Homo sapiens: one gene and its partners. The protein of the gene in region 3 purifies or fractionates together with the protein of the main gene of each other region. This does not show direct contact. Each region holds a gene or a part of one and is shown on either strand. Other genes may lie near its edges. The genes, in order: HK3, IFT172, IFT56, KATNIP, UFD1, OBI1 and FOSL2.

Region 1 (4,141 bases), on a different chromosome or scaffold from region 3:
CCAGCTGCTCACAGACCTCAAGCTCAGCCATCCTTCTCCCTCCACTGGCCTTGACCCAGACTTTCCCTGGCATTCTGACTAGGGAACCAGGACCCCTGCTCCTGGGGTCTGGACACAGACCTTCCAGAAACGCAGATGAAGAGCCCTGGCCATGCTTGTCAGGGGCATATCCTCACCCTGGCTCAAGAAATGGCAGGCTATCTGCATGAATCACAGCTGGGCCTTTCATAGTCAGTTCCACATTCTCCTCTCCCAACTGAACAAAGTTGAAAGGGACTGGGATCCCAGGCTAGGCAGGATGCTGTGTTGTTTGTGACAGCCACTCTACCCTCTGCCACCCCATCCCCCACTTCCCTGCCTTTCACAGCCTATATGCCTGGTTGGTACCCAGTAAACTTCACAGCAGGACTGATGTTTGGCATGTTTCCTGGCCTCTTCATGCCACTACTGATAGAGGAGCCACTATCTCTGGTCTCCATCCTGATGTCATGTGGAGGCCTACTATCTGTGGATAGAGTTACTGCTGACAAGGCAGCCTGAAGCTTTAAAGTGTATCCATGCCTTCAACAAAGATTGTTGCAGGCTGTCTAGTATTCTACATTGGTGCCCCAAGGTTCTGTGCCTTTGAGGAGAAATTCCCACAGAAAAACAGCTTGTTCGCCAATAGCTCCACAGCAGCCTAACACTCCCCTTCTTCCAGTAGAGAAGACCTAAGATGTGAACCTACTCTCCCTGCGCAGGCTACAGACTAAAGGCTAGACTCCGCAGTCTGCCTGTCACCTCCTCTCCCACTATATATTCCTACCTTGGTGTACCCTCTTCAGGCGCCTGGAGCTGCACCTCATTGCTGTGTGTGTGTGATTTGTGGTTGTGCACATGCTCTCCACTTTGTCAAGGACCACTTTTGTCAGCATACTGCTGTTCTTTCTTCAAGACTCAGCTTCTTCAGCTAGCCCTGCCCACTCTCGGCAGAGTCAGTCCCTTCCGCTTGTGCTCCCACATTGCCTCTTGCTCAAAAGTACTTACCATAACCTTTCCAGGCTAGGCGCCTCCAGCTCCTTCTAGGGGCGAGCCACCACCTCAGAACTCACTATATTTGCAAAATAAACAGCCCTCAGCATTGTAGAGGGAATGGCCCAAAATCTTAGACCCAGTTCAACGCTCCACTTCGCGGTAATCATCTTGCTCAAGTTTTCACCACAGCCTTGCCTAGCCTGGGCTACTCTTAGGGCAGGCTTGGAAGGAAGTGCAGCTTCCTGAATTAGCTGATGTTTGGTAAGTGGTGGTGGAGGAAAAGGGTGGGGCTTGAGGATATTATAACTCGGGTCACCCCTGAGTGTTGCTTTTGGTCATTGGGGTGCCTCATATTGCCAGACAAGAGCTCAGACCTGAGGAGAGTGACTAGCTTCTCTGTGTCCCAGGTAAGCACTTCGGTCTAATTACTGCCTGCTCCTTCCACAGCTGTCTTGTCCTCATCCCTCCTGTTTGGCTCACACCAGGGGAAGTGGACACTGGAAAGATTAAGCCAGCTGGTTCTCTTTCTTTGTTTTTGAGATGGGGTCTCTCTCTCTATCACCCAGACTGGAGTACAGTGGCACAGTCAGGGCTCACTCCAGCCTTGACCTCCTGGGTTCAAGTGATCCTCCCACCTCAGCCTCCGGAGTAGCTGAGACTACAGGCGCACACCACCACACCCAGCTAATTTTTGTTATTTTTTTCTAGCGATGGCGTTTTGCCATGTTGCCCAGGCTAGTCTCACATTCCTGGGCTCAAGCAGTCTGTCTGCCTCAGCCTCCCAAAGTGCTGGGATTACAGGTGCAAGCCACCACACCCAGCCTGCCAGCTGGTTCTCGATGGCAGCTCCCAACATCAGTAGAGGTCCCTGGGGTACTTTTCAGGAGGAAAACTCACTTCGTGTAGCCCATTCAGCTAAGGGAAGCCACGGGGCCCTTAGGCAAACAGACCCTGGGCTCTGGGGATACTGCAGTGAAGGAGACATGTCCCTCCCCACAGGGAATCTCAGTGGGAAGAGACAGAGCTGAATACATTTACCTAGCATATAAATATTAGGGCTACTTGGGGATTGCTTCACAGATTCTGTCATGTAAAAATGCTGAATAAATATTGAATGGATGAGGGAATGAATGAGTGAGTGAATGAATAAATGAACTAGCTGGGCCTTGAGAAAGACACGTGTGTAGCCCTTAGTCCTTTTCGAAGGTAATTGCCCCAGTTACCTCATTTTATCCTTGAAATAGACCTGCAGCATAGAACAAGAATTCCACACCCCTATTTGACAGATTTGGAAACTCAGCATAGGTATGTATGGTTTGGGGAGATTTATCAGAAGCTGATTTGTTGCTTTATTAAATAAAAAACTACCCACTCCCCTTGCTTCCAATTTTGGAAAGGCACATTAGCACATACCTATACCAGACCCTGTGCCGGCCATGAGTGCAGAGGTGATCAAGTTGGGTGGGGTAAGGAGGTGAAGAAACTAGAAGCAGAGCTATCAGTTTAGGAGGCTGTTGTAATAATCAGGCCGGAGGATGGTCTGGTGCAGTGTGTGGGAATGGGGAGGAGGGGATGCAGAGGAGAGCTCTTAGAGAGCCTGAGATCCAATTGCATAGAGGAGGTGAGGGTGAGGGATGCGCGCAGGCAGCCCGAACGGCCGTGTGAGTGAGCACACTTCGATGTCTCCAGTCAAGGTGGAGAACAGAAGAGCTTTGTGGGGGTAAGGTGATGGAAAAATGAGTATGGCTTTGTTGAATTTGAGGAGCTTCTCCACCATCCAGATAGTGATGTCTAACAGACCACTGGGATTTAGGATTTGGCTGAGGCCAAAGGTAGATTTGGGAGCCCTGACACAGCTATTAATGAAACCTTGGGAATGGGCGAGATAAAGGGAGTGTAGAGGGAGGGCATGACCGAAACTTGGGAACCCCATTGTCTGAAGGAACAGAAATTACTGATGAAGACTACGAGAGACTCAGGAAGGAGACCTAGGAGAGACTGGCCGTGAAAGCCAAGGACAGGGGGAATTCTGTAGCAAAGAGAATGACTACTGGCTTTGCATGCCTGAGAGAGGGCAGCAGAGGTGGGGACTGAGGAAAAGGCTTGGGATTGGGCAGTTAGGAGGTCACCAGTGACCACGTGGAGGGCAAATTAGTGAGCATAGTGGGAGTAGGCAAGGAGGGGAGTGTAGGGGTGGGAAGGTACTATATTTCCAGAAGTTCTGCTGTTGCAAGGAAGGGAGGTAAAGTGACTCAGTGGACAGATGTCTCTTCCCATATTGGGCCCTCTGCTGTGTTTCCCTTTTCCCCCACCCCTAAAGAGCACCTGACTCACTGAGGGCTCCCTTGGGACTATGGAAACAGCAATACCACCTCCAGCTCGGATGAGCGAAGTATCTGACATTTCTACAGTTCCTTACAGTGTGCAAAGGACCACTAACTCCTTTAATCCTCACAAGAACTGAGCTTTTCATGTTATAGAGGAAATGGAGAATCATAGAGTTTCAGTTCAGATTCAACTACATAAATCTGAATGCACATCTGAGCAAGTTCCTTTGCTCTCGTGATCTCATTTGCCCCACACAACCCTTTGATACATGTTGGTCCCATTTCACAGATGAAAAGCCTGGAGGTTGAGATGGGGTGCAGCTGCCTTGTGGAGAGCAGGGTTCCCACCTCTGAGTACAGGGCTCTTTCTGCTCTGCATCACTTCACTGTTAAAACCCACCTGATGTTTATGTTGCACACTACATCTCATAAAGCATTTCCCCAGGTGTTATTCTATTTAGTGCTCACAACAACCTTGTGAGGGTAGATATTATTTCCTCCTGTTTTATGGATGGAAGCTGAAATTCAAAGAAGTCATAAATGACGTCCAAGGTCAGGTCACTAGTGGAACCCCTTTCTGAAGCACAGATCCACCCCTGTCCATGACCCCTGTTGCCTTCAGGATGAAATTCATGTGCCTTAGCCTGGCACAATGGCTGTCCCTTTTCCAGCCTGCCTGCTTCTCTGGCAGGTCTTTGGTTCCCTCTTTGTTCCAAGCCTCTAGCATGTCCCTGACCTCCCAACCACAGCAGCATGTCCATCTATTACATGTGGCCATCTTGCTCACTGCCTGTGCTAAT
Region 2 (3,500 bases), on a different chromosome or scaffold from region 3:
CGACAGAGCAAGACTCCGTCTCAAAAAACAAACAAACAAAATAAACAAACAAACAAAAAAACCTCAAAACCTAAGGGAAATTTTGCAGGGGCATCACCATACGAATATGTCATTTAGAGGGCCAATCTCACCCCCCTCATGACCCCCACTCACATTTCACTGTATCTAAGGTGCGTCATTTAAACTATACCTGCATCCCAATTTTAAATATATTAAAATATAATTATATATATGTATGTGTGTGTGTATATATATATATATATATGTTATTGTTAACTTTATGTATCAATTTGGGCTACAGGGTATCCGGGTATTTGGTCAAACATTATTCTGGGTGTTTCTATAAGTGTTTTTGGATGAGGTTAACATTTAAATTGGTAGACTGAGTAAAGCAAATTGCCCTCTCTACTGTGGATAGACCTCATCCAATCATTTCAAGGCATGAACAGAACATAAAGGCTGGCTCCTTCCCAAGTTAGAGAGAATTCTTCCTGTTTGACTGCCTTTAAACTGGGACACTGGCTTTTTCCTGCCTTCAGATTTGAACTGAAACATCAGCTCTTCTTGGGTCTCAAGCTTGCTGGCCTTCAAACAAGAACTACACCATCAGTTCTCCTGGGTTTTCAGTTTGCCAGCTCACCTGCAGATCTTGGGCCTTGTCTATCTCCATAACTGCATGAGCCAATTCCTTTTAATAAATCTCTTTATATACATGTACACACATATACCTACAGTCATGCATTGTCTAATGATCAGTATGTTCTGAGAAATGTGTCCTTAGGGGATTTCATCATTATGTAAGCATCATAGCACAAACCTAGATGGTATAGTCTACTATACACCTAGGTAGAGGTTGCGTAGAGCTTATTGCTCCTAGGCCACAAACCTGTACAGCACATTTCTGTACTGACTACCTATAGGCAACCATAACACAATGGTAAGCATTTGTGTATTGAAACCTATTTAAGGCCAGGCGTGGGATCACCTCAAGGGATCCACCCACCTCAGCTTCCCAAAGTGCTAGAATTATAGGCGTGAGCCACCATGCCCACCCATGTGGTCTACTGTTGACCAAAACGTTGTTATATGGCATATGACTGTATATATCCTGTTGGTTTCTCCAATACAGTATGTCTTATTATTTGTGACACATACTGGCCTGGCTTAATTTGCTGGAAGCTTCTTTTCAGGAAATGTTGGGTGGGGGAGGTGGAGCCCATGCTTTTTTCATGTTCCCTGTCTGGCCAGTTCCTGTGCCTGGAGTTGCCCTTCCAGCTCCTGTCCAAGTCTTCCCTCCTTCTTCACAGAGCCTTCCTGACCCCTCTAGCCCACAGAGATCTCACTGTTCTCTGAACTCTACTTTAAATCATGCACTTTAGTCTTTACTCAGATATGATAGTAATTGAGCCATTTATTGGTCTAATTCCCCTAACTTTTGGCTGTCAGGGCTCTGTCTTATATCCACTTTTATAGCCTTCAGAGGTTCTGGCTCTATCATCCAGCAGGCACTCCATAGATTCCTGCTACCTGATTGAAAAGAAAAAGACACAAGAGGAAAGAGCTGAAGATGTGAGAAGCAGAGCCAAGTGTGAATAGAGGCCTAGGGAGAAGGAGGGCCAGAAAGGGCCTGCTGTCCTCACCTTCATCCAGCACTTCTCCGCCAGGCCGCTGTTTCCAGAGTCTCGCACTTTGAGGTAGCAGTCCACGGCACGGCTGTACTCTCCAGCCTGCTCCCAGTGTCGAGCTTGTTCCACAAATCCCTCCACACCCCTGTGGAGATGAGAGCGCTGGGACTTGGCATGGTAGGGGGGCAGCATGCTCTATCCTGTGTATGCCTCATGACCCTCCCAGCCCTGCCAATGCTGCCTGGACCTCTGGCCTCATACCTGGCCCCCTTCTTAGTAGCTTCCCGCTCATATTCTTCCTGCAGAGCCTCCAGCTGGCTGGGCACATAGTCCTTGCAGATGCGCAGAGCGTCACTCCATAATCCAGCCTCCTGCTCAGATTTCCAGGTATCAAGAGGGCAGAGGCAGGCCTGACAGCTTCCCACTGCCACACAGGTACTCTGGCCCACAGACTCCTGGGTCCTTGGACCTCTCTTCTCCTCCTCTTTCCTGTCTTCCCCACTCCCCAATACTAACCTCCCTGATCTTTCTTCATACCAGGGGTCAGTGTGGCTCTCTGTGGGCTCTTACAAACTCTCCCCCTCCCCTCATGGCCCTGCATCCAGTGCCCCACCTTATAATAATTGAGGGCCAGGCCTGGTCTCTGGGCCCGGAGCAGCAGCCCTTCTGCTTTCTGAAAGTCCTTCTCCTCCAAGGCCCCCCGGGCCTGTCCCACAAGCACCTCGGCGACACTGTCAGGGTCGTGAGCCTCAGCCACACGCTGAGCTGCCTCCCAATCCTGGTTATGGACAAACCTGCCTCCAGGTGGGGACAGAGGAGAGACTGAGTATAGGACTGAGGCCCCAATAGTGGGAGACAAACAGCCATGTCACTGAGGGGTGTAACACTGATTTGTTCTAGGTTTGAATGAAGGTCAAGATAATCATGAAAGATCCTGGGACGGTGACTGGGGAAACAGTATTAAGGAATGTATGGGGTAACTCACATGAGGACTGCCTCCTTGGGTTTACCAGCTCTGATGAATTCAGCTTCAGCCTCTTCGAATTTACCCTACAGGGAGAGAAAGGCAGCCGTGCATGATGAGAAGGAGACTGGCATCACAGGCAGGCATGAGACTGGGGGTCTGCACACCCAGCAGCAGTGCACTAGGGGATGGAATAAGAGGGCTCTGCGGTCGGGGTCCAAATCACACCCATACCTCATCCTCCAGGAACATAGCATATTTGAGATGAACCTCGGGGGTTTTGTGCTTGAGGGCCAGCCGAGAGAGTTCAAACGCAAATTCAAAGGAGCTGAAACAGAAAGTGCAGATAAAGTTTTCTTGCTTCATGCTTCCCTTCATAAAAGGAACAAGACAAAACAGAGAAAGGACAGAGTTGAGGGGAGAAAAAGTGACAGATTTAAGGATAACAAATATGAAGTGACAGAAAAGCGTGGAGAGATAAAAAGGAAGACGGGCAGGCAGCCCTGTGAAGACCATGTCACTGTCAGCGTGGATCAAGAGACGTCTGGAAAAGCCTATGCCTTCCCTGAGGCCAGCTGCTCCTGAGGAATTAGTTTGGGCCTGCGAAGGGGAAGGGAGGAGTGAGCCTCGCAGCCCTACACTGACAGGGCTAGGAGGGCTCCTGGTGCTCTCCATCTCTTCCTGAGCCCCAGCTACATTAGCAGAAACAGAGTCTCTCCAAAAAATGAGCAAGACCACCCTCAGCATCGGACTCCATGATTGGCACTGATAACAGTAGCTTGAGAACACTTTGCTCTTTTGGCTATCTTTCTGCACCGCCGCAATAGTGCGCATGAATGTCCTGGCTGATGTGCTCAAGAGCATCAACAATGCCAGAAAGAGAGGCAAACGGCAGGTCCTTATTAGGCTGT
Region 3 (3,500 bases):
CAAGAAAGGAGAGAAAAAGGAACACAGACCACATGGACCAGCTGGGCAAATAGAGAACTAATAACAGGATGGCAGTTATGAAGCTAACTGTATTTGTAAATACATTAAGTAAATGGATTATATACTAGAGGTTTTTTTTTAATAAAGATTTTAACTGGATTTTAAAACCCACAAAACTCATTTATATGCTGTTTATAAGAGTCACCTTAAATTTAAGGACATAGAAAGGTAGAAAGTAAAAGGATAGATGAGAGATATAATAGGCAAATGCTACCCAAAAGAGCTAGTATAGCTCACAAATATGACAAAGAGAAATTTTTCAGAGATGAGAGATATTTCATGATAATATATGTTTCAGTCTACTAGGAAGACATTATTGCTAGGCAGTCTACTAGCAATTCTAAGTTTGTGTGCACTTAATGACAGAGTCTGAAAAACATGTAAAGCAGAACTAAAAAGAGAAAGAGACAAAGTGACAATTATGATGTGGAATTTCTAAATGTACCAGAAATAATTATTTTCATATAATGCCTGTGGATGATTAAACTTTCTGTAAAACAACTTAGCAATATCAATTAAAAGCTTTAAAGTTGCTCATACCCAGTAGGTATGTCCATTTCTAGGATGTTCAGAATGACATTTTTATAAATTTTTAAAATTATAAATAATCTGAAGTCAAATAACTAAGAAACACTGAATAAATAATGGCACATATGATGCATTTGGTGGAATGCTATAAAACAATTTTTTAAATAAATTAAACAATTATTTAAAATTTTAAATTTGAAAAATTATTTAAAAAATAATTTTATCATTATCAAAATTATTACCATACAGCAATTCTGAAAAGTGTATATTTATTTCTAGGAGTCAGGACAAGGTGACTCTGAGTCTGTTTCCTAACAGATAATAGTATAGTTGACACAAACTAAACTTCTTTTTTTTTGAGACACAGTCTCGTGCTGTCGCCCAGGCTGGAGTGCAGTGGCACGATCTCGGCTCACTGCAACCCCCGCCTCCTGGGTTCAAGTGATTCTCCTCCCTCAGCCTCCTCAGTAGCTGGGATTAAAGGGGTGTGCCACCAAGCCCAGCTAATTTTTTTTGTATTTTAGTAGACACATGGTTTCACCATGTTGGCCAAGCTGGTCTCCAACTCCTGACTTCAGATGATCCGCCCGCTTCAGCCTCCCAAAGTGCTGGGATTACAGGCGTGAGCTATCATGCCAGTCTAAACTTCTTATATGACTGTTGCTTAAGGAGAAATAAAACCTAACATCTCTGAATAAATGCAGTAGGTAAAGAACATTGATAGAGGAGAAAATCCTATACAATTAACAGTTATATTCCACTTGTTCTAGAAAACCATTAACAAGAATTTCTAATTAAATATCTCTCACTAGTGTTAGTAACAAGAAGGAAGAAAAATAAAAATATTTTTAAAACAAAAAAATGTGAAATGAGAACATAAATACCTTGTGAGCCAAGTGGAAGAGGAGGCGGTTTTGGAGTCGGCTTTTTGAAGCTGAAAAAAAAATCCAAGCTGCTTATTAAAGAACTCAACAGTCTAGCAGTCCCTTGTAGGAATGAAATGAGACTCGGATGAATCTTCCCAAACCTTACTCATCTGATCCTAATATGTCTCTGCTAGAATACATATTGTTTGAGTCTGGTGTCCACCTGCAGTAGCAGAAACAGCATCAAGAACTAGAAGAGAAAGGTGCTAAGATTCTGTTCTTCTCCACTGCTTGTTCTACCTGATCCTATTATGGTGATCCACCATGCAACACTCCACACACATGGTTGTAGTAGCAGCCCACCTCTGTGTTGTTCATATACCAAACCAAACAGTGGTAAGAGACACCCATGGTCATCTCAATGTGTGTATGAATCTGCTCTCATTCACCTCTTAGTCCCAGTATTCTTTGTTAATTCCTTCTGATATCTCCTTTTCCACAATTATACTGCCATATTTTCCTAAATACTAGCCCAGCCTCTATTCCACAGATTTTCTAGCATAATTATGTGCCATCCTGAAACAGGCAGTCCAGCAAAAATGTTAACAGCTTTTAAGTTCCAAATCTCCTTTGCACTCTTGGAAAACTTTCTGATTCTGGATACCCAATTCTATCTCTTTTACAGAAAAAGTCATACTTCAATGTATAAGAAAAAAAATATGGAAATAGAGATAGCTACCACAATCACCTTATATGTGTCTAACACTGTTCTTAGCACAGATAAAGCCTACAAATATGAGATAAAGTAAGTAACATAAAGGACCTTATAACTAAATTAGGAAAAACTACATTAGTACCTATGAAATAATTTGGGTACAAATCAAGAAAGGCTTTGCTGGGCATGGTGGTGGGCGTGGCTGTAGCCTCAGCTACTCAGGAGGCTGGGGCTGGAGGATGGCTTGAACCCAGGAGTTTGAAGCTATAGCATACGATGCTCACACCTATGAATAGCCACTGTACTCCAGCTTGGACAACACAGTGAGACCCTGTCTTTTTTTTTTTTTTTTCAGAGTCTTGTTCTGTCGCCCAGGTTGGAGTGCAGTGGCGCAATCTCGGCTCACTGCAAGCTCCGCCTCCCGCGTTCACACCATTCTCCTGCCTCAGCCTCCCGAGTAGCTGGGACTACAGGCGCCCGCCACCACGCCTGGCTAATTTTTTTGTATTTTTAGTAGAGACGGGGTTTCACCATGTTAGCCAGGATGGTCTCGATCTCCTGACCTCGTGATCCGCCCACCTCGGCCTCCCAAAGTGCTGGGATTACAGGCATGAGCCACTGCACCCGGCTGACCCTGTCTTTTAAAAAAAAAAAAAAGTCTTCAAGTTCCATGTTTGCCATGAATTTGGGCTGAAATTCTTTATATGTATAAATTAATTTTACCTCAAATACATTCTTCCCTATCAAACATTACAGTGCCCACTTTCTCTGCATTTCCTTGAACTTAATTTGGTTCATACTTTAATTAACTTTTTTTTTTTTTTTTTTTTTTTGAGGTGGAGTTTCACTCTTGTTGCCCAGGCTGGAGTGCAATGGCGCGATCTGGGCTCACTGCAACCTCCGCCTCCCGGGTTCAAGTGATTCTCCTGCCTCAGCCTCCCAAGTAGCTGGGATTACAGGCATGCACCACCTTCTGTATTTTTGTATTTTTAGTAGAGATGGGGTTTCTCCATGTTGGTCAGGCAGGTCTCGAACTCCTGACCTCAGGTGATCTGCCCACCTTGGCCTCCCAAAGTGCTGGGATTACAGGCGTGAGCCACCGCACCCAGCCATCTTTAACTTTTTCTACCATGTTTCCCTTTTATTCTTAAATTTGAGTACAATCGCCCTGAGATGAATATCATATGTAAGAAAGCAGAAGGGATGATTTCTGGATTCTTCAAACTGAAATTGCTGGGTTTCTCACTTAGAAACAGGAAAAGCAGCGATAAAGTCCACAGCCATAAGAGCCTGAATAAAACTATACCTAAATACCACCAACAGCATGCCCA
Region 4 (3,500 bases), on a different chromosome or scaffold from region 3:
GGGGCTCAAGCAATCCTACCACCTCAGCCTCCTGAGTAGCTGAGACTACAGTGCATGCCACCATGCCTGGCTAGTTTTTTTTTTATTTTTTGTAGAGATGTGGTCTTGCTATGTTGCCCAGGTTGGTCATGAACTCCTGGACTCAAGCGCTTCTCCCACCTTGGCCTCCCAAAGTGCTGGGATTACAGGCAAGAGCCGCCACACTTAGCCAGATAAACAAATCTTTTAAAATGAAAGATGACCTTCAAGGTCAATTCAAGTCAGGACCAATAGGAAAAAGAGGAGATGGTTAAACAGGGTAGGGGAGAAATGGGGACAACACAAGCCACAAGGGATGGGGCTGGGCTGTGGGAAGGTCATGACTGAGGCAGGACAGCAACATGTCGTGTGGACCCCATGGTGTTCCCTGGGGATTGTACCTCGCAGCCAGGCAGAGCATGGGGTGCAGGAGCAGGGCATGGGGAGGCACAGGCAGCTGGGGAGTGCGTGCCCCTCCCCCTCCCCACATCTAAGGAAAGCGGCCACCAAGAGGGGCAAGCCCATTGTTGCCAGTTCTCCTGATTTTTACAAGAGAAGCCAGAAAGCTGGATTTTTCTGTAAAACCTCTCCATTTAAAAATGCTGGCAGTGAATTCAGATGTGTTCAAACCTTTTTTGGGCCACAAGCCGTGCCTGTGCTCCTGATTCGACCCAGGGGTCTCCAGGTGGGAGTCTACCCTGGGCGCTTCCATTTGCCCAGCGTTTTCCAAATGACAAAGGTGCTCGTAAGGGACTCTGATGGGCCCAGCGCTGTGAGGGGCTGGGGGGATCACTCTCTCAGTCTCGTGAGAGACCAGCGCCTTCACTTATGGTGCAAAGAGACAATGAGCAAATAGTTTATATGTAAGGCCCAAGAAGGGTGTGGTGGCCCACCGTTGACTCTCTGAAGACCAGGATTTTTTATCCTGGCTACCCGTGGAAATCACTTGGGTGGATCTTTAAAAATGTCTGGGCCCCACCCCTAGAGATTCTGCTTCAGTGAACAGCCAAAGTTAAGAGCCACTCTCTATGGTTTGAATTCTTCCACTTCCCCTTCCTTCCTTCCTTCCTTCCCTCCCTCCCTCCCTCCTTCCTTCTTTTCCTCCTTCCCTCCTTCCTTTCCTCCTTCCTTCCTTCCTTCCTCTCTCCCTTCCTTCTCTTCTTCCCTTCCTCCTCCTTTCCTTCCTTCCTTTCTTTCTTCCTCTAGCTCACCACATAAGCATTTATTGAGTCCTTCCCTGTTGGAGGAAATTTAAACACCTTAGCTGTTAGCATCAGGCTCCTCCCCAGCCAGTGAGAGCTGCTGACAAGGATGCAGACCCTGGAGGGTCAGGGTCCGCCCATATCACTGGTCCCATAGCTTCCACAAAGGCAGAAAAATCCAGGAAAACACACAAGGACTTACCTGGGCATAGGGTGGGCAGTGGTAAATGCAGAAACAGCCAGCCAGCTAGCTGTGTGGGTATCACTAAAACCACCCCCTTTTCCTCTGCTTCTCCAACCCATGTGCAGATCCCGGAGCTAGAGCTCCCATCCAGTTCCCCTGTCCCCCAAGTCACCACGCCAGAGCCAGGCATCTACCACGGAATCTGTGAGTAGCTCTCCTGGAGCAGTGTTGGGTGGAAGGAGGACCTTCCAGGGACAGGGGGAGTTGTGGCCACTTGGGACAGGGTTTCGCTGGACAATCGGGTGGGTTGGACACTGTACAGAGACACCAGGCCATGGGGCAAGTGGAGGCTGAAACCAGCCTGCGCTCAGCTCCCTGGCCCTAGCAGGGCCACCTCACTCCAGAGGAGGGGCATCTCTTAGCATTTTGCCTTCCCTGAGGGGCATTTTTGCATGCAGACACCCTATGTGTTAGCTGTGACCATGACCCTGACCCAGGAGGTGTAGTTGGCACCCAGAAAGTGTAGAACAAGAGGACATTAGAGCCTGAAGAGACCCAAGGCATCTGTTGGTGCAGTGCCCCGAGCTGTCTCTTCCAACTCCACCAAAGAGTAGATGCACAGGCAGAGAAAACCTGCATCCACTCTGCCCCGGGGGTGGGGGCAGGTGCACAGGCCCAGGGTACCAGGTCTTCTGACTTTTCAGAAGAAGTCGGAAATCTAGAGTCTTACGTGAAGTCTCCAGATTCTCAAATGTGTGTAACGAATTTTCTCATGTTTTAAAATATCACATGAGCCAAATAAAACACTTATTGTGTATCTGGCCAGCTGGCTGCCAGTTTGTGACTTCTGAGCAAATCCCAGGGGTTTTCTGCTGGGCCTGTTCCTCACCCTTCTTTTCCATTGATCCTTCCAGCCAGTTCCTCTCTTCATCCATGCGTGTCCACATCAGCCCCTCCCCGTCCTGGGGAATCTTCAAGCCCAAGGTCACTGCTGATTGTGATCTCCTCCCTCCTGCACCCTGCTAACCAGGTTCCTGGCAGCCTCACTTCCTGCTCTCTCCTGCCCCCTGTGAATGTGACCCGCTTCTACTTTATCTTCTGAGACAAAAGATGTGACACTGTCAGGATCCCCTCCCCACCTCCCCATCCTCATCTCCAAAATGAAGCTGGAGCCTCTCCGAATCCTGGTGTCAGCCCTTCCGGGACCTCCCCATGCCATCTCTGGAGTCCACCTGCAGGCACCTGTGCAAGCCACACCTTCCACCTAGGATGCCTCCCTGCTCCATCTCTGCCTTCTGACGACCACCTGTCGCTGGCTAGGTTCCCTAGACACAGACCCTGAGATGGAGTTTCCTGGGGTGTGCTCTTGTCAGGGAAGGGTAGGAGGCAGGATTGGGCAGAGGGAGAAGCTGGTCTGCGGTTCAGCCACTTCAAGGCCTCAGCCTGCTCCACAGGGAGCTCGGAACCTGGGATGGCCCTTTGGGGTCATCCTGAGTTGAGTGAGGGGCCATGTCTTTATCTGTATCAACATGGCACTGGCTATGGGCTGCCCCTGGGGAGGGGCATGGCTTTTTATTTTACTTTTTAATTTGTATTTATTTATTTTGACACAGTTTTACTCTGTCGCTCAGGCTGGAATGCAGTGGCATGATCTCAGCTCACTGCAACCTCCGCCTCCCAGGTTCAAGAGAGCTCCTGCCTCAGCCTCCCAAGTAGCTGGGATTACTGGTGCCCACCACCACGCCCGGCTAATTTTTGTAATTTTAATAGAGACAGGGTTTCACCATGTTGGTCAGGCTGGTCTCGAACTCCTGACCTCAGGTGATCCACACACCTTGGCCTCCCAAAGTGCTGAGATTACAGGCATGAGCCACTGTGCCCAGCCGGACATGGCTTTTTGCAAGGAGACTCTCTTCAGCCAAGGGCAGTCACAAGTCAAGAGCCTCAGTGGTGAGCTGCCAGCCGTCAGCACTTCCCGCCACCAGAGGACTAAGTCCTTCTGTTCCTGGGGGTGGGAGGTGGGGTCTGAGCAGTGCCCTAAGTGAGCTCCACATCCCCTCCCTTATGGCCCTTCTGCGACCGCATCTCCTCCCCAG
Region 5 (3,500 bases), on a different chromosome or scaffold from region 3:
AGTGATGTTCTAACAGGAAGTATTCTAAGGCTCAGAGTTAGCCAGTCGCAGGCCAGGCGCACTGTCCCTGGGTAGATTTTTGTGGGAAATTTGTCAGCGAGGGGAAGGATACTGGGCTGCAATTGCAAGCCTGAGGGAAGGCTGGCCAGGGATGGGGGGTGGCTTCCTCAGCCAGAGGCAGGACACTGCCATAGGTGATGTGAGGAGGACAGGCAGAGAGGTCAGACTAGGGCTTGAGGTGAGAAATGGGCTGCTGGAAGAGGCCTGAGAGCACTAAGCAGGCAGGAGGAGCTGATGCCTGGCCCTCCCCATGCAGCATTTTAGAGCATACAGCACAACGGGCAGCCGAGTACCCACATGTCACAAACGGCTAGTCCAGGGCTCGGATCTAGGTCAGCAGACGAAGCCTTGGCTACAAGGAAAAAGGCCAGTACCTATTCCAGGCTGGCTCGCCCTGAAGAAGCTTGGGAGCATGGGTGGGATGGAGTCCACCAGCCAGCCCAGAAAAAGCACTGGCTCACATGCCCTCCAAGACAGCAGATGGGGTATACCTGTCACCCGCCTGCCCATGCCAGGAGCTGGAAGGCCAGCTCAGGGGAAGAGGTGGCCTGATGGCTTCACACCCCAAACCAGCTCCAGGCTACCTAAAGAGGCTTTCCAGGGGAGAAAGGGTTCAATTAGTTTCCTGGTCTAAAGCAGTCCAACAGCTTGGACAAGAGGCCACCCAAACTTCAAGTCTATGGGTTAAAGGAGAACCTTCGAGATACAGTGTATCCCCAGCATCACCACCTCCTCTTATAGGTGAGCCACAGAAGGGACTGGGGAAGTAGTCACTGCCTGACACTTCAGCTACCTAGAGTGGCTTCAGTGACCAGGTGTTCTACCGGATGAGCACAATGTGGCCTCAGGCCCTTGGGGGCACCTGCAGACAAACACAAGAATAGCAAGGGGCTGAGCAGCAAATACTGGGGAGGGCAGGTGAGCCAATCTGGGCTTTGAGGCATAAAAGCCCCCCAACAGGCCAGGTTGGGCAGGCCTAGTCAGCTGAGGTGAGGAGGCAGCATGGGAAGGCCAGGCACTAGGAGGTGCAATGGGAGTGCAGGGCTCTTGTCGGGGAGACACTGGCCAGGCCCAGACCTTGGGAAGGACCCTGGGACCCAGGCTGAAGAGGATGCCACTACCATGGCAGCATGGGCAAGGTCACCTGCTACAGCAGGAAAGAGACCTTCAGAATTTTGATTCATATTATTGTTGTTTTTTTTTTTTGAGATGGAGTCTCGCTCTGTCGCCCAGGCTGGAATGCAATGGCATGATCTCGGCTCACTGCAACCTAAGCCTCCTGGGTTTAAGCCATTCTCTTGCCTCGGTCTCCCAAGTAGCTAGGACTACAGGCACGTGCCACCACACCCGGCTAGTCTTTGTATTTTTAGTAGAGACGGGGTTTCACCATGTTGGCCAGGCTAGTCTCGAACTCCTGACCTCAAGTGATCTGCCCACTTTGGCCTTCCGAAGTGCTGGGATTAGAGGCGTGAGCCACCGTACCTGGCCAGAATTTCAATTCATATTTAATCTCAGAAAATATTAGTTAAGGCCATCCCTTCTGAACGTCTGGCGGCCACCATGATAGGGCATCAGCAGGAGAGGTGGGCTGTGCTTCAGACCACCTCCCTGGTGGCAGCCAAGCAAGCACTCCTGAGAGTTTCCAGCCCACAGCTCACTGCGGGGTCTCTCAGTATGCCTGATGTAATCCAAGCACAAAGAGAAGGACAAGCAGGTCCCTTTGTGAACTTCCCTAATGTGCCAGAGCTGGGGAGAGGAGTGAGGAGAAGAAGGAGCCAAGTGGGCCACAGCTACCTGTGTGGAACTCTCACTGCTGCAGGCTCCTCCCTACAGCACTGGCACAGTTCTGCTCACTTCTCTGAGGGGTACAGCCTTGAGGGCAGGCTCTGGTGGCTCACACGCCCTGGATATCCCAGCCCAGATCTGCAATGACATCCTTCAAGTCAACTTTCCAAAGAGAGCCTGCTTGTAAGGAAAAAGACGTCACTCCCATGGCAGCTCAGTTGAGAGATTTGGGAGACTACGTCAGAGGTAACTGAAAACATGTATGCTGTGACAGACTACTAAAAGTAGGGGAAAAGCATAAAAACCTCAAACACCCTACTTACTAGACCACCTAAAAAATACTGTTGCTCCATTATTTTTAAAAACGCCTCACCCAGGAAATCACAGATGAACAGTTCAGCTGCGCAACTATCAAAGAAAAGGCCACTCCCACAGCACAGTGGCCCACAGGTGCGTCCAGAGCCCACCAGCCCGCATAAGGCACAGTGCACTGCTCTGGATCCCTTCTCTCTCGCTGGGTCGGCTCAGGCTAAGACGCTGAGCAGGAGGAGTAGGCGGGGCCACCTGCTCCAGGGCCAGGACTCTCGAGTGCAGGAGATGTCTCTGCCTAAGTGGCTGCTCTCTAGAGACCCTGGCAGCCCCACTCACCCAGTGTGGGAGGTAGCAGATGCCCTCATCAGCCACAAACTCCAGCACGCCACAATGCGTCATGCGGTCCGAATTCTTATTGGTCAGTTTGAACAGCATGGGATAGGTAATGTTAAGTCGGCCTGAAAATAAGAGAGAGACTATGAGGCACAGCTCCTATGAAGGGACACCTGTTCGGCCCACGCCTTCCCATAGAAGGAGCCTCCCCACAATCCTGCCCTCAACCCCACACTCCTCTGGCAGATGAATCCCCCTCTGTGAGAGCACAGTGCACGGCTCAAGGAGGAACCTGGCAACTTGGTAACACAGCACTGGCATAGACTTGTGATTTTCTGAAGTCAACATTTTAAAAAGTGATGTGTTCATTCATTTATTCATAAATAATTTCAGTGCCCACCATGCCCTGGACAAAATCCCGACCTTCAAAGGTTTCTAGTTTGAAGGTAGAAACCTTCCAACAAAGAAAACCACAACCAGATGCTGCAGGTGCTGTGGGAAGAGCTGGCAGGAGGGGGCAGAGCTACTGGGCTAGGCTCCTAGAGGCCGAGTTCTTTAGGCTGGGCACTGGGCGGGCAGACCTGGGAGGAAATCCAGGCAGAGGTGGCAGCCTGAGCAAAGGCGTGGAAGGGAAGAGGAGCCCAGGCAGTTCAGAAATGGTGGATAATTAGGCAAGACAGGCTGGGGACAGGTGTGCGAGTGGTTGGGAAGGGGAGGGGCACCACACGGGGTAGAACCTAGGGCCTGGGCCCAGCGGGCAGTGTGAGCTCTCAGCAGGGTCATGACATAGGACGCCCCCTCTCTCTGATGGACCTTGAGGTGTGGGCTGAAAGCAAGGCCAGAGGCAAGTAAGCTGGACTGGTGACGTGCTGACCCAAGAGGTGCACAGGCACATAAAGGAAGGGCTGGCAAAAAGAGGCAGGAAAACCCAGGAGACACTGGGCCCCCGGGAGAAGACCGAGAAGGAACTGATGGTAGTGATGGTGTTTGCCATGTGTAAGGCCCTTGTT
Region 6 (3,500 bases), on a different chromosome or scaffold from region 3:
GATCGCGCCACTGCACTCCAGCCTAGGCGACAAGATTGAGACTCCGTCTCAAAAAAAAAAAAAAGTAGTTTTTCCTGGTCTTTATAGGCTAATTCAATATACGAGACAAAGAATCATCATCGACATCAAGGAACACAGTGCTTATGACATTCTTTATTCAATTCACATAGAAAAGCATGCAGTATTAATGTAAAACAGTACAATATTAATGTAAAATGTTCAGTGCACATTAAACAGCATACATACCCATTTTTAAAGACCTATATAGGCATACCAAATACGTTTAGAACAATACACTTTTTCAGAGCCTAAATTAAAAATTGTGCTTACCTCTTACCTATCTTCACCCCCTCAACACTCTTCACAGAAAAGTTTTGTCCTACATAAAAGATATTCTATCAGCCAACTGAAACCTCTTTTTCTTAAGTATGGAAAACACAGCAAGCAAAAATGCTACCATGCATAGTTTCCACAAAGAACAGGAACATGCAAACAAGAAACATACTACTCAAAAGAAAACTCCCCTGGAATGCAAGTGGATCAAGAACTTGGCGATGAGCTCTTTCAAACCTGTTACATCTGGAACAATGAAGCTATGATGTTTTAGGTTCCTCTAAACCCAAGTGCTCCATGCCTTCTTTCCATAGTATGCTAAATTTCTGATTTTACACACATACACACACACGCAGAGGAGAAAATGTAAGCTACCTAACATAAAACAAATGTCTTCATATAGAAAATGTTTTCTTTCATACTAGCAGAACATTTTCACAAAACTGGACAAAACACAATGCTAAAAAATGCAAACATATACATAAAACCTAAAAAAAGAAAGTAAATCAATATTGGACTAAGGCTAGAGTGCTATTTCTCCATCATGGCCCTGCAGAAAAACTAGGCCATCACTAAACATAAATAAAAAGGGACAGGTAAAATAATTTCCACCCTGGGAAAAGCTTAAACTCAAGTGTCTTATTGAGCAGTGTATAGACAACACTAAAAGTTTTATTTAAGAAATCCAAGTTCTGAAGACAAGTGGGGCTTATCAACAGGCCACTGTATCTAACAGTTAAATAACATTTTTTAAAAAAACAATGTATATCCAACCGAGATACATATCAAATTCAGTAAAAAAACAAAACCAAAAACAAAACCAACCAACCAACCAACCCCAAAACACAAAAATAACCTCCTCCCTAACTTCTCTGGTCACAAAGACTCCCAAATAAAAATGAAAAGAACAAAGTCTTTTCAAAATGAACAATAAGTATTCTGGGTACAGGTTAATCCACCATCCTGACTTGATACTTGACTAAAGATTATCAATTCCAATTTGTATAGAACTTTTATGAGGAAAAAAGGTAACTTTAACAACTTTTCTATTTCTCTCAGGACAAAACCACAAATGACACCTTTCTAATGAGTCAACTTTTAGTTGCTTTTGATGGGCTGGCACTGGAAAGGCTGCTCTGGATTTTTCTTTTTGTTGATTGATTCACATTTTTATTCCTCTTTTCAGGCACAAAGGAAGTAGACCAAGGAGACTGAAGGTGGTTATGAAGACTGTGCATCTCTGAGGACATCTTAAACAAAGATGACCCAAATCTTTGATCTTCAAATAGTCGATGTGAACTGCTTAACAAAATGCCCTGGGAAAACTCTGTCTGAAACAAGCAGCTTGGGGGTTTGATTTCATTAGTTACTGGACAAGAACTGGAATGGAGTGAAAAATCTTCATTCATTTCTTGGTCAGATGGAGAGAGGAGAAAAAAAGAAGTGGGTTTCCATTCACTTCCATTTTCTAACTGATCATTAGTTAGAGAACCTTTGGAAAGGTTTAGCTCAGTTTTTTCTTCCAACTTATCAGGTTCCTCAAGAAATTCACTGCCTTGAGATGACTTTGATAACCCATCCAAATCCAGTGACTTAAAACCGTTATTACAAGGGCTCTTGCTGTTGTCTGACTCTGACATCATTGAATCCAACTCAGAGATTTTGTCAAGGTAAGCAGCATCCATCGATGCTTCACTGGATGTTCTTGTCCGGTTCATTTCAAAAGAGCGAATAGAATTCAACCTTTTGGATAAACATAAGCCTGATTTCTCACTCAATTTTGAAGATATTTCTCCAACAGAATTTGCTATCGTGTTCCCCTCTGAACTTTCAAAATCTAAGTTTTGGGCATAGCTTGTGGAACAACAGTCCCAAAATCCTGTCTTTGGGGAAGAAAAACATTCTGATTTCTTTTCATTTTCACTTCTACTTATATCATCTTCTGAAGAATCTTTATTAGAAACATTTGAAGAATCACAAAAATCATCAAACACCAATTTTCTGAGATGGTTTGAGTGCTTTTTGGAACCTCCTGCTTGGACCACAGAGCTCTCTCTATTTTCTGGAGTACTGAGCTGAAGGCAACTAAGGGACAAAGGAGTACAAGGAGCTGGAAGATCATAAAGTTCTTCATCTTTGTAGGGTACACAGTCACTTGGTTTATTCCCCCATTCTCTTTCCAAATAAGTATCCATACTTGTATCTGTCACATCTAACATTACTTCTACCTGTTCTTGATATAGGTCTTTGTTCTTAGAACAGTTAAGGTCTGCTTTGCTGGTACTTTCCTGCCTTGCAGAACTGGTGTCACACAGTCTGCTGCTGGAAGGCTTCGCTAGGTGAGAAGAACTGGAGGTGGATGAGCCAGGCTGCTTTCTGGCACTATCGCCTTGATTCTTTGACACCACATCCTCCTCACTGCCTTTGCTCCCTTTGCCATCTGCAGAAAGTGCTGTCTGGCAAATGGAATTCATAGCTTCTTTCTCTTCACTTGAATTTTTTAGCTGTGCAACTTGAGATTCTAGTTCCTCTATATACTTATCACTTCGTTCCAGGGCTTTCTTGAGGCGATTGGTTTCACGCTCATACTGTTCTACTTTGGACTGAAGAGCAGCAACTGCAAACCTTCCAAACCTACAAAGAATGGAAAGATAGTTAATCTTATAACTCAAGCTTTTTTCTTTTCAAGGTTTGAGAGTGCAAACTGTCCCAGGCTATTCTAATTTCACCTAACAGTGACATTTCAGACCACTCAATGAGTAGGGCAAATGCCAGATGTATATTTTCAAAAAATGGTTTCCCCACTTACATAATAATAAACATATGATAATAATAGCAAAACCTAATAGGATATTTTTGTGGTTAAATCAGATCTATGGTAGCAGAGAGGCAGAAATGTGCTGATGATTTCCCCTCGAAGAGCTGGCTGTATCAATTCAGCTCATATATGCATGAAGAGTTATCCCCTAAAACAATGGCAAAGATTTATGATAACATTTGAACAGTGGTCTACATCTTGAAATATTTACATTCAATCATTTTCCTATCATACAGCAGTGTTTTACAATACATTTCTTATATAATGTCACCTTGTCAAACATAAAATGCCAATTTGAAATTCAGAAATCTTAGCAGTCCCAGGAGGGGTGGTTTTAAATACTTATTTG
Region 7 (3,500 bases), on a different chromosome or scaffold from region 3:
GGCAGAATGGCAAGGCAGTAATTACAGGAGACGCCCTACTCAAGACACCAGGTGAAGGGAAGCTGGCTAGGACACCCGTGTGGCTTTGTTGGCATGCTTCCTGGCCTGGTAATTAGGCGTTTGGCAAACCCAACCTGTGCCCCACTGTCTCACTCACACCCTGTCTTCTGGCCAAGCCGTTCCTCCAGAAGCCGTCTCCGAAGGTGGGCAGGAAGGGTCCTCTGAGCCTCCCAGTGATGGCAGCATCTCCTTGAGAGCTCAGGGAGCCCCGCTGGGAGTTCTGGAGATGATGACTGGGAGGCGTCAGGGTAGGGAAGGCTCTGTATTGCACTTTGTCCCCTTCTGGACAAGTCAGCCCCAGCAGAAGAGCCACCTGCTGCCCCATCTCCAGAAATGAAGAGCTTTAATATTCAGACCACCCAGATGAAATGTCATGGCAAATTTGATAAAAACCAAGAGGGAGTGAAACTGACGCTGGGGGAGGAAAGGGTCAAGTCGAGGGAAGGTGAAACCAAAAGGCACTGAGCATGCGTGGTGGGGCAGGGAAGGACACCATCACTCCAGAGACAGTATGGTAACAAAGGGACAGGAATGGTCCAGGCCAGCTTCAGGCTCTTCAGAAGCCAGAGAGATGTCCAAGTCTACCAAACCGAGTTCTCCAAGGCTTTTCAAGAAATGGGATTTGCTTGCAAGATGAATGAGGGAGGAGGTCCCATGGCTTCTAAGAGATCAACCCAAGTCTTCCAATACTCACTGCTAAGTCCCACCTGGGTCCCCCAGAGCCAGGAAGCTCCCTGGTGGCAGGTCCCCCTCTTGCCCTCACGGCCCTGGAGCGCTTGAAGGTGCTGGTCCCTGGGAAGGAGGAGCGAGGAGGACCCCCTCCGGAGCTGGGGAGGGAGGTGCACTGGGTTACAGAGCCAGCAGAGTGGGGGAGTTCAAGGAGTCTGATGATTGGTCCCCGCTGCTACTGCTTCTGCGGTGAGCCTTGGAGCAGGATTCGGAGGGAGATGCGGGTGACTCCTGCTCCAGGACGCTAGGATAGGTGAAGACGAGGTTCGAGGTGCCCGGAGTGACAGCAGGTGTGGAGGTCACCACGATGGGGGTGTGCAGGGGCTCCTCACCGTAGAAGCCCCCAGCAATGCTGATGGGCTTGATGACAGAGCGCTGGGCCTTGTCCAGCCCCGCCGACGAGGACGAGGGGCTGTCCTCTTCCAGGGGCTCCTGTTTCACCACTACAGCGCCCACCGAGCCACCCCCACTGCGCATGGGCTGCAGCCCAGGGGCTGGGGGCGATCGGCGCTCCTCGGGGCTAATCTTGCACACTGGGCCGTGAGCCACCAACATGAACTCCAGCTTCTCCTTCTCCTTCTGCAGCTCAGCAATCTCCTTCTGCAGGCCTGACTTCTCCTCCTCCAGCTCCTCTGTCTCCTGCCACGGAAAGAGAGGGATGTGAGGGACAGCAACCTGCCAGGGACCAATCTAGGCAGGAAAGAGAAAACCAGTAATGTTCTCAGACACTGTGAGAGCAGAGGCTCACACACCTAACCACAGACCCCGCTGGTCTGAGTCTCTCAGTCACCTGGAGGCTCAAGATTCCTTTCATTTCCAAAGAAGGAAAGTCAGCTTGGAGAGGGGGTAAGACAACAACTGCAGCTGCCATAACCCAGCACCTACTTTGTGCAGGGCACAGTGTTAAGCATTTCAGAGATGATCTCATTCAATCTTCCAGGAGTTTTTTGGAAGCAGATGTTATCATCGCCCCATTTTGCAGATGAGGAAACTGAGGTTCAGAGGGGTTCTGTTAATTTTCCAAAGTCACCGAGCTAGCAGGTGGGGTAGCCCAGATTTGATTCCCAATGTATCTGACTCCAGGGTCTATGTTCTATGGCCTTGGTGCCAGGACTGCCCCCTCGGTACCCCTGAGGGGTGAGTACTGCAGAGATCTGCATGGAGAAGGGGGTACGGAACACAGCTCTACCCACCTCTCTCCTTCTCTTACTCCCCAACCCCATGCCAGCCCACCTGTGGATGGATAAACGCTAAGCCCTAGGCTGCTAGAGAGTGGAGACTTTGTCATGCACACTCCTGTATCCCTAGCACCTAGAACAGTGCCTGGCTTCTCAGAAGTGCTCAGCAAATCCCTGTGGGATTATCACAGCCTCTCCTCCTCCCTTTTTTCACTCCAATTTCTTTCTTTTTTTTTTTTTTGAGACAGAGTCTCACTCTGTCTTACCCAGGCTGGAGTGCAGTGGCATGACCTTGGCTCACTGCAGCCTCTGCCTCCCGGGTTCAAGCTATTCTCCAGTCTCAGCCTCCCGAGTAGCTGAGACTACAGGCACCTGCCACCACACCCGGCTAATTTTGTATTTTTCATAGAGATGGGGTTTCACCACATCGACCAGGCTGGTCTTGAACTTCTGACCTCAGGTGATCCACCCGCCTCAGCCTCCCAAAGTGCTGGGATTACAGGCATGAGCCACGGCGCCTGGCCTTTTGCTCCAATTTCTTAAGCACATATTTCAGGACTCCCAGAACCCTCAGAGAACATTTGGTTCAGCCACCACGCTTGACACAGAAGTAACGTGACAGCCCGAGAGGGCCTGTGAGGATGCCAGGGTCACCCCGCAAGGACCTCAGCCCCCTTCTTTCATCCCCAGCCAGAGAAGCAGAAGCGAGCAAGTGCACGTGGAGGGGCCGCTGTGGGAGGGGAAGAGGTGTGTGTCACCAGCCTCCTCCCCACGTTTTCCCTAACATGGATTCCTGTTCATCAGTGAGGACATACGGGCAAGGGCTTCGTTCAGCAGAGGACAGCATATTCCGGAGTGAAAAACAGTTTCCGTCTGTCTCAAGGGTCTGACGAACGTCATGAGCTTCTGAGAGGCTTCCTGTGGAGGATGTGGCTCAGGGGCCTGGGTGGCTGGGTCAGAGGGCGGGGGAGGTGGGGGAGGCAGGGGAGTAGGGTGTGAGGCCTCTGGGAGGAGGGAAGGAAAGTAGAGGAGCCTCAGGGGGCAGGGCTATTCCGGGGCGGGTGGTGAGGAGCGCCACATGGGGCACAGCTCCTTGAAGTGCCAATCACAGAAAGGTTAGTGGTGGGAGGGCCCGCTGAGGAAGTGGATTGTGGATCTGCCTCACCTGGGAATGAAGAATTCCCACTCATCCTCCCCGGCTCTAACACCTCCGAGGGCCATTACTACAGGCATCACAGAATTCACGCAATTCAATTCATTCAACACCCCAGAGTGAGGGCTGCAGGACAGAGAAAGACAAGCCTAAGTGGGTGGATGGTACCTGGAAACATTAACTCAAGTGAGGGGATGGGCCAGGCGTGGTGGCTCACGCCTGTAATCCCAGCACTCTGAGAGGCCAAGGCAGGCAGATCACCCGAGGTCAGGAGTTCGAGACCAGCCTAGCCAACATGGTGAAACCCTGTCTCTATTAAAAATACAAAAATTAGCCGGGCATGGTGGCAGGCACCTGTAATCCCCGCTAGTTGGGAGGCT

The links.
Region 1: the proteins of IFT56 (region 3) and HK3 purify together in Homo sapiens (affinity purification with mass spectrometry; 2 studies listed by BioGRID and IntAct, with this or other methods). This does not show direct contact.
Region 2: the proteins of IFT56 (region 3) and IFT172 purify together in Homo sapiens (affinity purification with mass spectrometry; one large-scale study listed by BioGRID and IntAct). This does not show direct contact.
Region 4: the proteins of IFT56 (region 3) and KATNIP purify together in Homo sapiens (tandem affinity purification; one large-scale study listed by IntAct). This does not show direct contact.
Region 5: the proteins of IFT56 (region 3) and UFD1 purify together in Homo sapiens (affinity purification with mass spectrometry, with the first as the bait; one study listed by BioGRID). This does not show direct contact.
Region 6: the proteins of IFT56 (region 3) and OBI1 purify together in Homo sapiens (affinity purification with mass spectrometry; one large-scale study listed by BioGRID and IntAct). This does not show direct contact.
Region 7: the proteins of IFT56 (region 3) and FOSL2 purify together in Homo sapiens (co-immunoprecipitation; one large-scale study listed by IntAct). This does not show direct contact.

Annotation. Positions count from the first base shown.
Region 1 is NC_000005.10:176,896,547-176,900,687, reverse strand, and holds the start of HK3 (hexokinase-3), read left to right. Parts: upstream 1-1,341; 5' UTR 1,342-1,421; intron 1,422-4,141. UniProt on the Homo sapiens protein: Catalyzes the phosphorylation of hexose, such as D-glucose and D-fructose, to hexose 6-phosphate (D-glucose 6-phosphate and D-fructose 6-phosphate, respectively).
Region 2 is NC_000002.12:27,451,744-27,455,243, forward strand, and holds part of IFT172 (intraflagellar transport protein 172 homolog), read right to left. Parts: intron 2,918-3,500; coding exon 2,824-2,917; intron 2,676-2,823; coding exon 2,611-2,675; intron 2,420-2,610; coding exon 2,239-2,419; intron 1,997-2,238; coding exon 1,887-1,996; intron 1,771-1,886; coding exon 1,641-1,770; intron 1,528-1,640; coding exon of another isoform or gene 1,495-1,527; exon of another isoform or gene 1,394-1,494; intron 1-1,393. UniProt on the Homo sapiens protein: Required for the maintenance and formation of cilia. Plays an indirect role in hedgehog (Hh) signaling, cilia being required for all activity of the hedgehog pathway.
Region 3 is NC_000007.14:139,140,278-139,143,777, reverse strand, and holds part of IFT56 (intraflagellar transport protein 56), read right to left. Parts: intron 1,523-3,500; coding exon 1,473-1,522; intron 1-1,472. UniProt on the Homo sapiens protein: Component of the intraflagellar transport (IFT) complex B required for transport of proteins in the motile cilium.
Region 4 is NC_000016.10:27,752,644-27,756,143, forward strand, and holds part of KATNIP (katanin-interacting protein), read left to right. Parts: intron 1-1,529; coding exon 1,530-1,608; intron 1,609-3,500. UniProt on the Homo sapiens protein: May influence the stability of microtubules (MT), possibly through interaction with the MT-severing katanin complex.
Region 5 is NC_000022.11:19,469,194-19,472,693, forward strand, and holds part of UFD1 (ubiquitin recognition factor in ER-associated degradation protein 1), read right to left. Parts: intron 2,616-3,500; coding exon 2,494-2,615; intron 1-2,493. UniProt on the Homo sapiens protein: Essential component of the ubiquitin-dependent proteolytic pathway which degrades ubiquitin fusion proteins.
Region 6 is NC_000013.11:78,614,156-78,617,655, forward strand, and holds the end of OBI1 (ORC ubiquitin ligase 1), read right to left. Parts: intron 3,171-3,500; exon of another isoform or gene 2,968-3,170; coding exon 1,425-2,967; 3' UTR 134-1,424; downstream 1-133. UniProt on the Homo sapiens protein: E3 ubiquitin ligase essential for DNA replication origin activation during S phase.
Region 7 is NC_000002.12:28,409,858-28,413,357, reverse strand, and holds part of FOSL2 (fos-related antigen 2), read right to left. Parts: intron 2,886-3,500; coding exon of another isoform or gene 2,783-2,885; intron 1,480-2,782; coding exon of another isoform or gene 1,429-1,479; coding exon 910-1,428; 3' UTR 1-909.